Linked DNA regions of Homo sapiens. Changing the gene in region 1 together with any one later gene gives a genetic interaction. Each region holds a gene or a part of one and is shown in the gene's direction. Other genes may lie near its edges. The genes, in order: NF2, ALS2CL and PMVK.

Region 1 (3,647 bases):
GTTTTTAAAATATACACTGGAGCAAAGCTTATACACTGCTGTAACTGCTCTTTCCTCTTAGCAGTCAATCCTGAAGGAGATCATCCATATCAGCTTTTTAATCATGTTTTGTTGTGTGGATGGATTGTAATTTATTTAACCAGTCCCTCATGGATGAGTATTTAGTCTGTTTTCTTTTGCAATTTTGAACAAAATGACACTGAACATCCCTGAACACAAATCTTGACACACACACGTGGATATATTGGTAGAATAAATTCTTATAATAGAACTGTGGGGTCAAATTTTCGATTTTGATACTCTCCAAAGAAGTCATACCAGTTCATGCTCTCACTAGTGGTGCAGCAACTAGTACGCGTTTTTGCTGAAAATTTTTATGATGTGTAACATACACATAGAGAAGTGCCCAAATTACAACTGTACAGTTTGAAGAATTTTCACAAACTGAACATACCCATGTACCCAGCACCCAGATCAGAAAACAGGACATCCCTGGCACCCAAGGAGCCTTCTCTCAGCACCCTTGCAGACGGTCTGCCTCAGGCCTTGAGAATGTCTCAAATGAATGTTCCAAGCCTCTGCTCTTTCCCAGACACTGTCCTAGACTCAATACGGGATCCAAGGATGAAAAAGAGGCAGATTGTTTGCAGGAAACTTGCAAATAGTAGAAAGAAGATACAGCCAAAAAGAAATCTTTTACAGGGTGGAATCGCAGAAGAACCATTAGAGAACCGTAAACACAGCGTTAAGGGACAGCAAAGAAAAGGGTTGCCGGCTGGCTGGGAGGGGCTAGAAAGGCTTTGGTGAGAGATCGTGGTGTTTGAGAAGGGCCTTGAAAGAGGGATGGAGCATAGGGAGGAGAAATGGGATAGGCAGGGGTACAGAGATGGGAAGGCAGTAGTCCAGGGGATAATAAACAATACTGTCTGTGACTTAGTAGGGCAAATAGTAGGAGAAGCCGGGAAGCTAGATTGGGGTCCTCTTTAGATGACCCTTTGTGCTGGGATGAAAGTCCAAAAAAAAAAAAAACTACACCACCCCTGCTTCAGGCCCTACTCCGGTTCCATTGTCCAAGCCCAAGCCCCTCGGTGGGCCGGTGGGGAGCCCTTTGTGGTGGTGCCCATCTCCCACCCCACCTCTCCACACTGCATGGCAGACTCCTGGCACCCTCACTGGGCACTGCCCCACCCATTGCCATACTTCCCGTCCGGCAGACCTTCTCCTGGCACTGCCTTGGATCCCAGCAAAAGCAGCATCTCTTCTAGCCTCTGTTCGCTCCCTGGCTACAGTGTTTACCTTTTTTAACAGTGATGATCTGTGAACACATCTATTTCCTGAACAAGACTTTCAGCTGCTCAAAGCCAAGGATGCTGTCTTGTTTTCTGCATCTCCAGCCCCTTGCACAGGGCCTGGGAGTTTCCTAAATGAAAAAGCGAGTGGGAGTTTGTGTTTGATTCAGCTGAGCATGAAGAACGGTTAGAGATTTGAGGGATGATTTTCCTGGATTTGTAGTCTTTGATATTGTTTACCTGGCAGTGGCAAATGTGGAGGGAGTGAAGTGGAGGGATGGGGACTCGTGGTGGCATTGGGAGGTGGGACCCGAGTTGTGCCCATTGCCTCTGTGGCTGCTGGAGGATCGGTTGTCAACACAGTAGTGTCCTTCTGTGCTTGTATGACCCAAGCTCCTAATCCGAAATTTCTCATTAACAGCCCATGAACCCAATTCCAGCACCGTTGCCTCCTGACATACCAAGCTTCAACCTCATTGGTGACAGCCTGTCTTTCGACTTCAAAGATACTGACATGAAGCGGCTTTCCATGGAGATAGAGAAAGAAAAGTATGTAGCCCCCTGTGCCCTGCTGTGGGCAGCTGTGAACTAGACTGAGTGATTGGGGCCTTGGGAAGCTGGGGCAGAGGTGAGAGGTCGCTGCAGCAGCCTGTCATTACTCCTGCAAAGGTTTGCTCTGCTCTTACACCCTGGAGGAAGAATTTCCTTAATCAGAAATTAAGGACAACAGATCAGCATTCATTCTGAACGAATAAAAATAACAATTTTTATCCAGGATAAAAATAACACTTGACTGGTGAGCTGGAGTTTTTGGTGGCTCTAAGCCTCACCTAAAGTGTAGGACTGGGTTGTTAGCATCTCTGAGTCAGTTCAACTGCTGTTATACTACTGGACTGTAGTCACCTCCTAGTTGTGTTCTCCAGCAACTGGGATCTGTGGTGGTTCCCATGTCTAGAACAAACAAAGGTGAGAGAAGAGACTCAGGCTCGAGGCTAAGGAAAGCTGACAGCTGGTGGGGCCACTTTGCTGCAGTGGGTGGCACTGGGCAGGGCCCCAGCATGGCCTGATCATGGCAGCAATTGCTGAGCTGCCCTCCGTCTTCCCTTTATTGTGGGTAGAAGTGGATCAGAGATGGAAAGGAAAGGATCCCCACTGCAGAGGAAATCTAAGCGAGGGCCCCTAGTTCCCAGAGCTAGCGGTAAGTTGGTTAACTGCTGCTGCTTGCTAGAGGACAACCACAGTAGCTACCATGCATTGAGTGCCTGTGTGTCAGGGGTTTTGGCTTTTGTCTCATTTAATTCCTGCTAACTTACAAACATCAAAATGACATCAAAGGTAGGTTTTCATGTTCCCATTTTATAAGTGAGAACTCAGATTTAGAGAGTTTAGTGAACTCCACCAGCATCCCACAGCTGATGCAGAGGGGTTGAAACCCCTCACCCATCTGACTCTGCAGCCCATGTGCTTTTACCATGGGTGGTATCCTCAGGAAAACCCTTTGGGGAAAGTGTCTCCATGGAGTCCAGTATGGGCAACCAGAACCCAGGCTGTTTTTCTTTGGGCTCTCACACTGAGGGTATAGCTAAGTAGCCAATGAACCAGAGCCTCTAGCTGTCATATCTGCTGTCCATGTTCCTTTCACCATTATCCAGACATATACATTTATGTGGTTGGGATCCGGGATCAGGGTGAAGCTGTTCTGTGTCTGCTATTTTATAGTTTGTATTTTGTTACTATCTTAGTTTGTTTTGGCTACTGTAACAAAATACCAGAGGCTGGGTAGCTTATAAACAACAGAAATTTATTTCTTGGCCAGGCACAGTGGCTCATGCCTGTAATTCCAGCACTTTGGGAGTCCAAGGGGGGCAGATCTCTTGAGCCAGGAGTTCAAGACCAGCCTGGGCAACATGGCAAAACCCCATTTCTACTAAGAATACAAAAATTAGCTGGGTGTGGTGGCACATGCCTGTGGTCCCAGCTACTCGGGAGGCTGAGGTGGGAGGATTGCTTGAGCCTGGGAGGCAGAGGTTGCAGTGAGCCCAGATTGCACCACTGCACTCCAGCCTGGGCAACAGAGAGACACCCTGTCTCAAAAAAAAAAAAAAGAAAAGAAAGAAATTGATTTCTCACAGTTTGGGAGGCTGAGAAGGCCAAGATCAAGGCACGGGCAGAGGTGGAGTCTAGTGAGGGCATTCTTGCTGGTTCATAATCAGCCCCTTTTTGCTGCATGCTCACCCAGTGGAAGGGATGAGGGGTCTCTCTGGAGTCTCTTTTATAAGGGCACTAATCCCATTCATGAGGCTCTACCCTCATGACTGCCCAAAGGCCCCACCTCCTGACACTTTTTTTTTTTTTGAG
Region 2 (3,647 bases), on another chromosome or scaffold:
GGATTAGCTGGGGCAGGGAGGTGGCGGTGTGGGTGCAGGAATGGAGGAAGGGGTGAAGGTGGTGCGTGGCCCTCTCTACACGCAGCGAGTACTGGCGGGGCCAGCGGAAGGCGCTGCGGCAGCTGCTTTCAGGTGTGAGCTCAGAGGGCTCGGTGGGCGCATCGCTGGGCCAGGCCCTCCACCAGCCACTCGCCCATCACGTGCAACAGTACGTGCTCCTCCTGCTGAGCCTCGGGGACACCATTGGGGAGGTGGGTACCAGGGGCAGCAGCATGTGGGGAAGCCGAGGGAAGGGAGGGATAGGGCCCAGACTCAGGGGGCTCAGCCTATACTCAGGAACCCTAGTACAAGAAGGACTCAGCCATGCCGGCAGGTGGGAGAGGGTTGAGGAAGTCACAGGCCTGTCCTGTGGTTTTCAGGGGACATGGGGGACGTGGCCCAGCCCTGAGGAGGGGGTCCGAAGACATGGTTCTGTCCTAGGGAATCTTAGTGGGTGAAAGCACTGCCCTTCCCTGCGGTGTCTGAGGCACGTGGCCCTGCCCTGGTAGAGCCAGCAGAGACCCAGAGAGCAGGGGTAGAATCACGTCCTGGGAATGAGGACACGTGGGCCCAGGGCCAAGCTGGGGAAGCACCTTCATATTCCACCCCCTGCCCCACCAGCAGAAGAGGAGCTGTCAGGGAGAGAAGGGCAAGGTCTGGCCTAGATTCAGGCCTCCCCACCAGCCGGGACCAGGACTGGGCTAGGGAAGATTCCAGTAAGCTCTCCTCTCACTGGCTGCCCTGTCCCCCTTCAGCATCACCCAACCCGGGAGCTGGTGGTGAACGCAGTCACCCTCTTTGGGAACCTGCAGTCCTTCATGAAGCAGGAGTTGGACCAGGCTGTGGCCACACAGGCTCTCTGGCACACCCTGAGAGGCCGGCTGAGGGTGAGTTGGGGGCCTGAGGGGCAGTTAGGGAGGGGGTTCCACATTGGGCATGGAGATGTTGGGGGGCTTGAGCTGCTTGCTGTATTCTCTGGGCCTCAGTTTCCCTATATGGAAGGGGGAGTGATGGCTGAAGCAGGTGGCTGTAAGGTCCCTCTGTCCAGCCATTCTTATCTGTCTGCTGAGCACGTCCTGGGCCAGGCCCTGACCCGGCCTAGGGAAGAGGCAATCAGCAGAACCAGTCCTCTCCCCTGGGGATATCACCGATCACACCCTTGCGTCACTGCCCACCATGGCATGGACTGCCCCTGCAGGGAGGAGAGTCCCCTGTGCCCTGAGGTTTGGACCTGGTGTGGAGAATTAGGAGACTAGGTAGAGGAACGAGAATTGTGGAAGGGAGGCAGGGGTGGCCGAGTACTGGGAGAGGACTGATAGGGGCATGGCTGGGGCCGTGGCACAGAGGTGTGGGAGGGGACACTGAAGCTTCAAGAGAGCCAGGAATGTATAATCAGTGCATTTCTGCCTATCTCTGACCCAGGGTCCGCTCCAGGTCTACTGGAGGGGGCCTCTGGGAGGTGTCTGGGGTACATTGGGAGGTGGCAGAGTGGCAGGCAGCTTGCAGGACAGAGGTGCCTAAGCCTTGTACTGTCCTCTTTGCCCCACCAGGATGTGCTCTGCACCCCTGCTCACAGACTCCTTCAGGACAGCCAGGACGTACCCGTGACGGTCGCACCGTTGCGGGCTGAGCGTGTGCTGCTCTTTGATGATGCCCTCGTCCTGCTGCAGGTTGGGGTGGGGCTGACCCAAGGTCTTGAGGCCACAGTAGGGTTCTGGGGTCTGGCTGGAAAAGGAGCAGTAAAGGGGCATGCTGCTGGGACTGAGAAAGTGGGCTGGGAGGGATGGTCAGGGATAGAAAGGCGTTGTGTTGGGGAGGGGCGGTCCACTGGAGCTGTCCCCAGAGGAGCATGGGCTGAGGGGAAAGGCTGTCCAGGGTTTGTCCCGGCTTCAGCCCTTCCCAGCTGGTGTCCTTGGTTACATGTCTTCACCTTCGTTTTCCCATCGGGAATGTGGGGGTCATTGTGAGTGAGTTTGTTCTACAGTAGACACCAGACAACTCTTAGTTCCCATTGTACTCAAATGAGAGAGGAACCCCAGACAGAAAGTCATGGGTGACTGAGGGGTGACTAAGGAGGGCTGGATGAGAAGGCTTCTAGAGAAAAGTACCCTACAGGAGCAGTGCCTGGGCTTTCAGCATTGTGGAAGTCAGAAGGGAGCCAGGCCTGAGGCTGGGAATTGTTACATGGCCAGTCACCAACTGTGGTTCATCCATCCTGAAATCATGTTGTCCTGGTGAGGTCCACAGCACAGTCTTCTCTACCCCTTAGAAGGTTGGCCTGGAACCCCCTTGCAGACAGGTGGCCGGGGCCTGGCAGGAAGCTGCTGCCCAGCCTAGACCTGTGTCCCCTGAAGCCTGATTTTGGGATTGGTTCTGATTTAGTTTGAATTCCCCTCCACTCCCAACTTCACACTCCACTCCAGGTACACTGATGAGCTACTGTCCCTTCCCTGTGCTAGCCCTCTCCTGACGCTGGACCTTTGCACATGCTGTTGTGTCTGGTGGGCCATCTCTTGTCCCTGGCCTGCGGCTGGCAAGCTCCTCCTCACCCCTCAGGCCTGGGCCTCCCACGTCCTCCCCATTCTGGTATGGAGCAGTGATTGGCCTGACTGGGCCGGGTAGGAAGTTGCTACACAAAATCTTCCCATAGGAAGGGGCTTTTTTTCTGGCTGTCAGAGCAGGATGGCATTCCAGGTAGAAGGAACAGTATGAGCAAAAGTTCACAGTGAGGAGAGGTTGGGGCAAGCTCATGAAGGTGTGATTGTGGAGTGGCCCTGATGGCGTAGTGGTCTGTGAGGTCTTAAATGTTAGGCTCAGCAGTGTCTCAACCCCCAGGCAGTAGGAGCCATAGAGAGGTTTCCAGCAGGGGTTGACCAGGTCCCAGCTTCATTTGTAGACCACTCTGGTAGCCACAGGGGGCTAGAGGCTGGTTCTGAGTTCCTGGCCAAGCTCTGGGGTAGAAAGGACATGGAGGAGCTGTCCCTGAGGTGGGGAGCAAGCCAGAGGGGAGAGGGACTCAGTCCTGGACATGCTGGGCAGAATAGCCTTGGTGGCCACACAAGGTTGAGCTTGGGGCAAGCCTTGGCCAGAGGGTAGGTGAGCATCTGGCCTGGGCTCTGGATGACTCCTGTGTCCATCCTCTTCCAGGGCCACAATGTCCACACCTTTGATCTGAAGCTGGTGTGGGTGGATCCTGGGCAGGACGGGTGAGCAACCCCCTCGGCTGACACCCCAGGCCTTCTTCCCTTTACCCCCATGACACCTGCCCACACCCTGGGACTCTGGCTTGGGCCCCTCCACCCTCCTGGACAAAGCTGGGGCCTACTCATCACCTCCGTCTGTCTAGGTGCACGTTTCACCTCCTCACGCCCGAAGAAGAGTTCTCCTTTTGTGCCAAGGACTCCCAGGGCCAGGTGAGTGTGGGTGAGCTGTGAACTGCGGGAGCGGGGTCAGAGGACAGGGTAGGAAGAGGGCAGAAGTATGCAACCCTGCAGGGCCCCACAGGAGTGCCGGCGAGTGTCTGGCAGGCTTCTGGGGACCTGGTCAGAGTAAATCGGGGTCAAGAATTAGAATGTCAAAAAGAACAGGGTATTTTTCTTTCTAAAGAC
Region 3 (3,647 bases), on another chromosome or scaffold:
GAGTTTGAGACCAGCCTGGCCAACATGGCAAAACCCCGTCTGTACTAAAAATACAAAAATTAGCCGGGTGTAGTGGCGGGCGCCTGTAATCCCAGCTACTTGGGAGGCCGAGGCAGGAGAATCGCTCAAACCTGGGAGGCGGAGATTGCAGTGAGCCGAGATCGCGCCATTGCACTCCAGCCTGGGTGGTGGAGCAAGACTCCGTCTCAAAAAAAAAAAAAAAAAAAAAGGTTGGTTAAGTAAATTAAATAACGAATGAGTTATTTTTATTTTTATTTTCATTTTTGAGATGGATTTTCACTCTTGTTGCCCAGGCTGGAGTGCAATGGGGCGATCTCGGCTCACTGCAACTTCCACCTCCTGGGTTCAGGTGATTCTCCTGCCTCAGCCTCCCGAGTAGCTGGGATTACAGGCATGCGCCATCATGTCCGGCTAATTTTATGCTTTTAGTAGAGACAGGGTTTCACCGTGTTGGTCAGGCTGGTCTCAAACTCCTGACCTCAGGTGATCTGCTGCCTCAGCCTTCCAAAGTACTGGGATTACAGGCGTGAGCCACCACACCTGGCTTTTGTTTCAGTTTTTTAAATTTGCTTTTCTTATTTCATTTTTATGAGACAGGGTCTCACTCTGTCTCCCAGGCTGGCATACAGTGGTACAATCATGGCTCACTGTAGCCTGGAACTCCTGGGCTCAGGAATGCTCCCACCTCAGCCTCTGGAGTAGCTGGGAGTACAGGCACATGCTGCCATGCTCAGCTAATTTTTAAATTTTTTGGTGGAGATGGTATCTCTGGGTCTTATTGTGTTGCCCAGGCTGGTCTTGAACTCCTGGCCTCAAGCACTCCTCCTGCCTTGGCCTCCCAAAGTATTGGGATTACAGGTGTGAGCCACCATGCCCAACCAGTGAATTAATAAATGATATATGTTATGGTGACCAAGTCAGTGGAGACAGATACCTCTGGCTATGAGAGAATTAGTTTAGGGTCTGGGCAATAACCTAATCCAGCTAGAATATTGTGCGCCTGTTCACACTGTAATTAGCACTTTATAGGTTTTACCTGTTAGTTTCAGGGCTCTTTTATATTCTTTAGAGTTTCATAATAATCCTGTGTGGGAGACAGAACAGAAAGTGTTATCCCCATTTTCTGATGAGGAAACAGGATCAGGGACATTGAGACCTACCAAAGTTACATAATACCAGTAGTAGAAATGGGACTTCAACACAGGCCTCTTGACTCCCTTTCTGGGACATGGAAGCTCCTGGAAATTCTAGGCTAACTGGATTCTGATCTCCCTGTCCTGCAGACTTGGAGCTGATGTCTGTGCTGTCCTCCGGCTCTCTGGTCCACTCAAGGAACAGTATGCTCAGGTAGGTGGTGCTTTGTGGCATCCGGTGTGTTGGGCGGGGCCGGCTCCAGGACTTTGGAGCTGTGGCTGCTGCCTGAGTCACTGGCATGATTCCCGTCACCACTGCTGGCAGGGTGGTGGCCAGCTCTTGGTTTTCTGTGAGTGGACCTTTCGGGGGCATTTTCAGCTTATATTTCTTTCCTAATAGCCTCCCTCCCTTCAGAGTGAGTTCAGGAAGGTGTGCCCAGGAAAGGCTGTCGACACTCGAGTTGGCAGCTCTGATGCTGTGTGATTAGTAAGGACCTGCCTGTGCCTCCTCACACCACCCTCTCACTCAGCTGGCCTGACACAGCCCCTAGAACTTTGCTCCTAGAAATTTAGTACAGGCCGAGCACGGTGGCACATGCCTGTAATCCCAGCACTTTGGGAGGCCGAGGCAGGTAGATTGCTTGAGTCCAGGAGTTAGAGACCAGCCTGGCCAACATGGTGAAACCCCATCTCCGTTTCTTTAAAAAAAATTTTTTTTAAAGTAAACAACAACACACAAAAAAGAAATTTAGTCCCAGAAGTTGTCAAAATATATCATTAAGTGAAAAAAAAAAAAAGCCAATACCAAGATATAGAACAGTGTGTAGAGAATGCTACATTTGTCTAAAACTGAAGAGGCACTTTGTGACCAAGAATTGTAAAAGAATTCTAAATATATCTGCTCATATATTTGGCTATTTAACAAATATTTACAGGGTGCCTGTCTCATGTTCAGCACTGTTTCAGGTGCCTGGGATGTGTTCCTGCACTGCATGGGAAAGACAGGTTAGAAACCGTACCATTGGTTGCCCCCAGGGAGGGGACAGGGTGAGAGAGAGATTTTCGACTGTAAATTAATGTGTATCTTTGAATTTTGAACCACATGGATTAAAAAAAATAGAATCGTTAAAATAGAATAAAAAAAATAAGTCAACAGGAACTCTCAGAATCTTAGACTTCAGAAAGGGAACTTGGAAGGCAAGATCAGCCTCCCACATGGTGAAGAGCCCTCTTGTCGCCACATTTTGCCCTTGACCTCTAGGTGCACCCTTCTGGGACGTGTGCTTTGGCCCCTCAATTGGCCAGAGTGTGGTTTCCGGAACCACATAAAATGAATTGTCCCCCCTTCTATATGCCATCTTTGCCTCCATGGGAAGCATTGGGTCATCTCTCACCAGCTGAACAGACCTATTCATAGGGTGGCAGCCTGAGGAATTGTAAGAATAACTAAATTAAGTGGTTTATTTTTTTTTCTTTTTGAGACAAGGTCTTGCTCTGTAGCGCAGGCTGGAGTGCAGTGGCGCATAATGGCTCACTGCAGCCTTGACCTCCTGGGCTCAAGTGATCCTCCCACTTGAGCTTCCCAAGTAGCTAGGAATACAGGTGCATGCCACTATGCCTGGCTAAGTTTAAAATTTTTTTTTGTAGAGATGGGAGTCTCATTATGTTGCCCAGGCTGGTCTCCAACTCCTGGGCTCAAGTGATCCTCCCACTATGGCCTCCCAAAGTGCTAGGATTTGGGCAGGAGCTACTTTACCTGGCCTGGTTTTCAAAAATTTTAAGCAGGATTCTTTCCCAAATGAAACTGGATACAGAATTTCTTTGTATCCAGGAGACAGACTGGGAGCGATGCTGCAGGGTGGTGGGGTGGTGGTGGGGGGATGGGAGGAAGGAAGGGGTGAAGGGGAAGGCACTGAGCCTTCCCTAGTGGGGCCTAGGCACTTCCAAAGGCCTCCCAGGAGCACTTTCAAAACTGATCTTCCAAAGTTCCCAGACAGGTCTTGCTTCTGTCCTACTGAGTGAGACTGGTGGGGTTGGGTGGGGGGCGGGAGGAAGAAGGAGCAGGAGTTTGCATTTTTATTTATTTATTTATTTTATTTATATTTGAGACGGAGTCTCGCTCTGTCGCCCAGCCTAGAGTGCAGTGGCACGATCTTGGCTCACTGCAACCTCCACCTCCTGGGGTTCAAGCAGTTCTACTGCCTTAGCCTCCTGAGTAGCTGGGATTGCAGCCATGGGTGACCACGCCCGGGTAATTGTTTTGTATTTTTAGTAGAGACATGGTTTCACCATATTGGTCAGGCTGGTCTTGAACTCCTGACCTTGTGATCTGCCCGCCTCGGCCTCCCAAAGTGCTGGGATTACAGGCGTGAGCCACTGTGCCTGGCCAGTTTGCATTTTTAAAAGCTCCATGGAAGACTCTGATAGGCCAGACTGCCCTTGCTCTGTGCAAGTCCAGCACCACTCTATCCCCCACTCCCATTAAAAAACAAA

Evidence for each region.
Region 2: changes in NF2 (region 1) and ALS2CL together harm fitness more than expected from each alone (negative genetic interaction), as found in Homo sapiens cells (one large-scale study listed by BioGRID).
Region 3: changes in NF2 (region 1) and PMVK together harm fitness more than expected from each alone (negative genetic interaction), as found in Homo sapiens cells (one large-scale study listed by BioGRID).

Annotation. Positions count from the first base shown.
Region 1 is NC_000022.11:29,676,486-29,680,132, forward strand, and holds part of NF2 (merlin), read left to right. Parts: intron 1-1,710; coding exon 1,711-1,838; intron 1,839-3,647. UniProt on the Homo sapiens protein: Probable regulator of the Hippo/SWH (Sav/Wts/Hpo) signaling pathway, a signaling pathway that plays a pivotal role in tumor suppression by restricting proliferation and promoting apoptosis.
Region 2 is NC_000003.12:46,683,587-46,687,233, reverse strand, and holds part of ALS2CL (ALS2 C-terminal-like protein), read left to right. Parts: intron 1-85; coding exon 86-251; intron 252-794; coding exon 795-926; intron 927-1,589; coding exon 1,590-1,709; intron 1,710-3,186; coding exon 3,187-3,245; intron 3,246-3,385; coding exon 3,386-3,452; intron 3,453-3,647. UniProt on the Homo sapiens protein: Acts as a guanine nucleotide exchange factor (GEF) for Rab5 GTPase. Regulates the ALS2-mediated endosome dynamics.
Region 3 is NC_000001.11:154,930,073-154,933,719, reverse strand, and holds part of PMVK (phosphomevalonate kinase), read left to right. Parts: intron 1-1,304; coding exon 1,305-1,368; intron 1,369-3,647. UniProt on the Homo sapiens protein: Catalyzes the reversible ATP-dependent phosphorylation of mevalonate 5-phosphate to produce mevalonate diphosphate and ADP, a key step in the mevalonic acid mediated biosynthesis of isopentenyl diphosphate and other polyisoprenoid metabolites.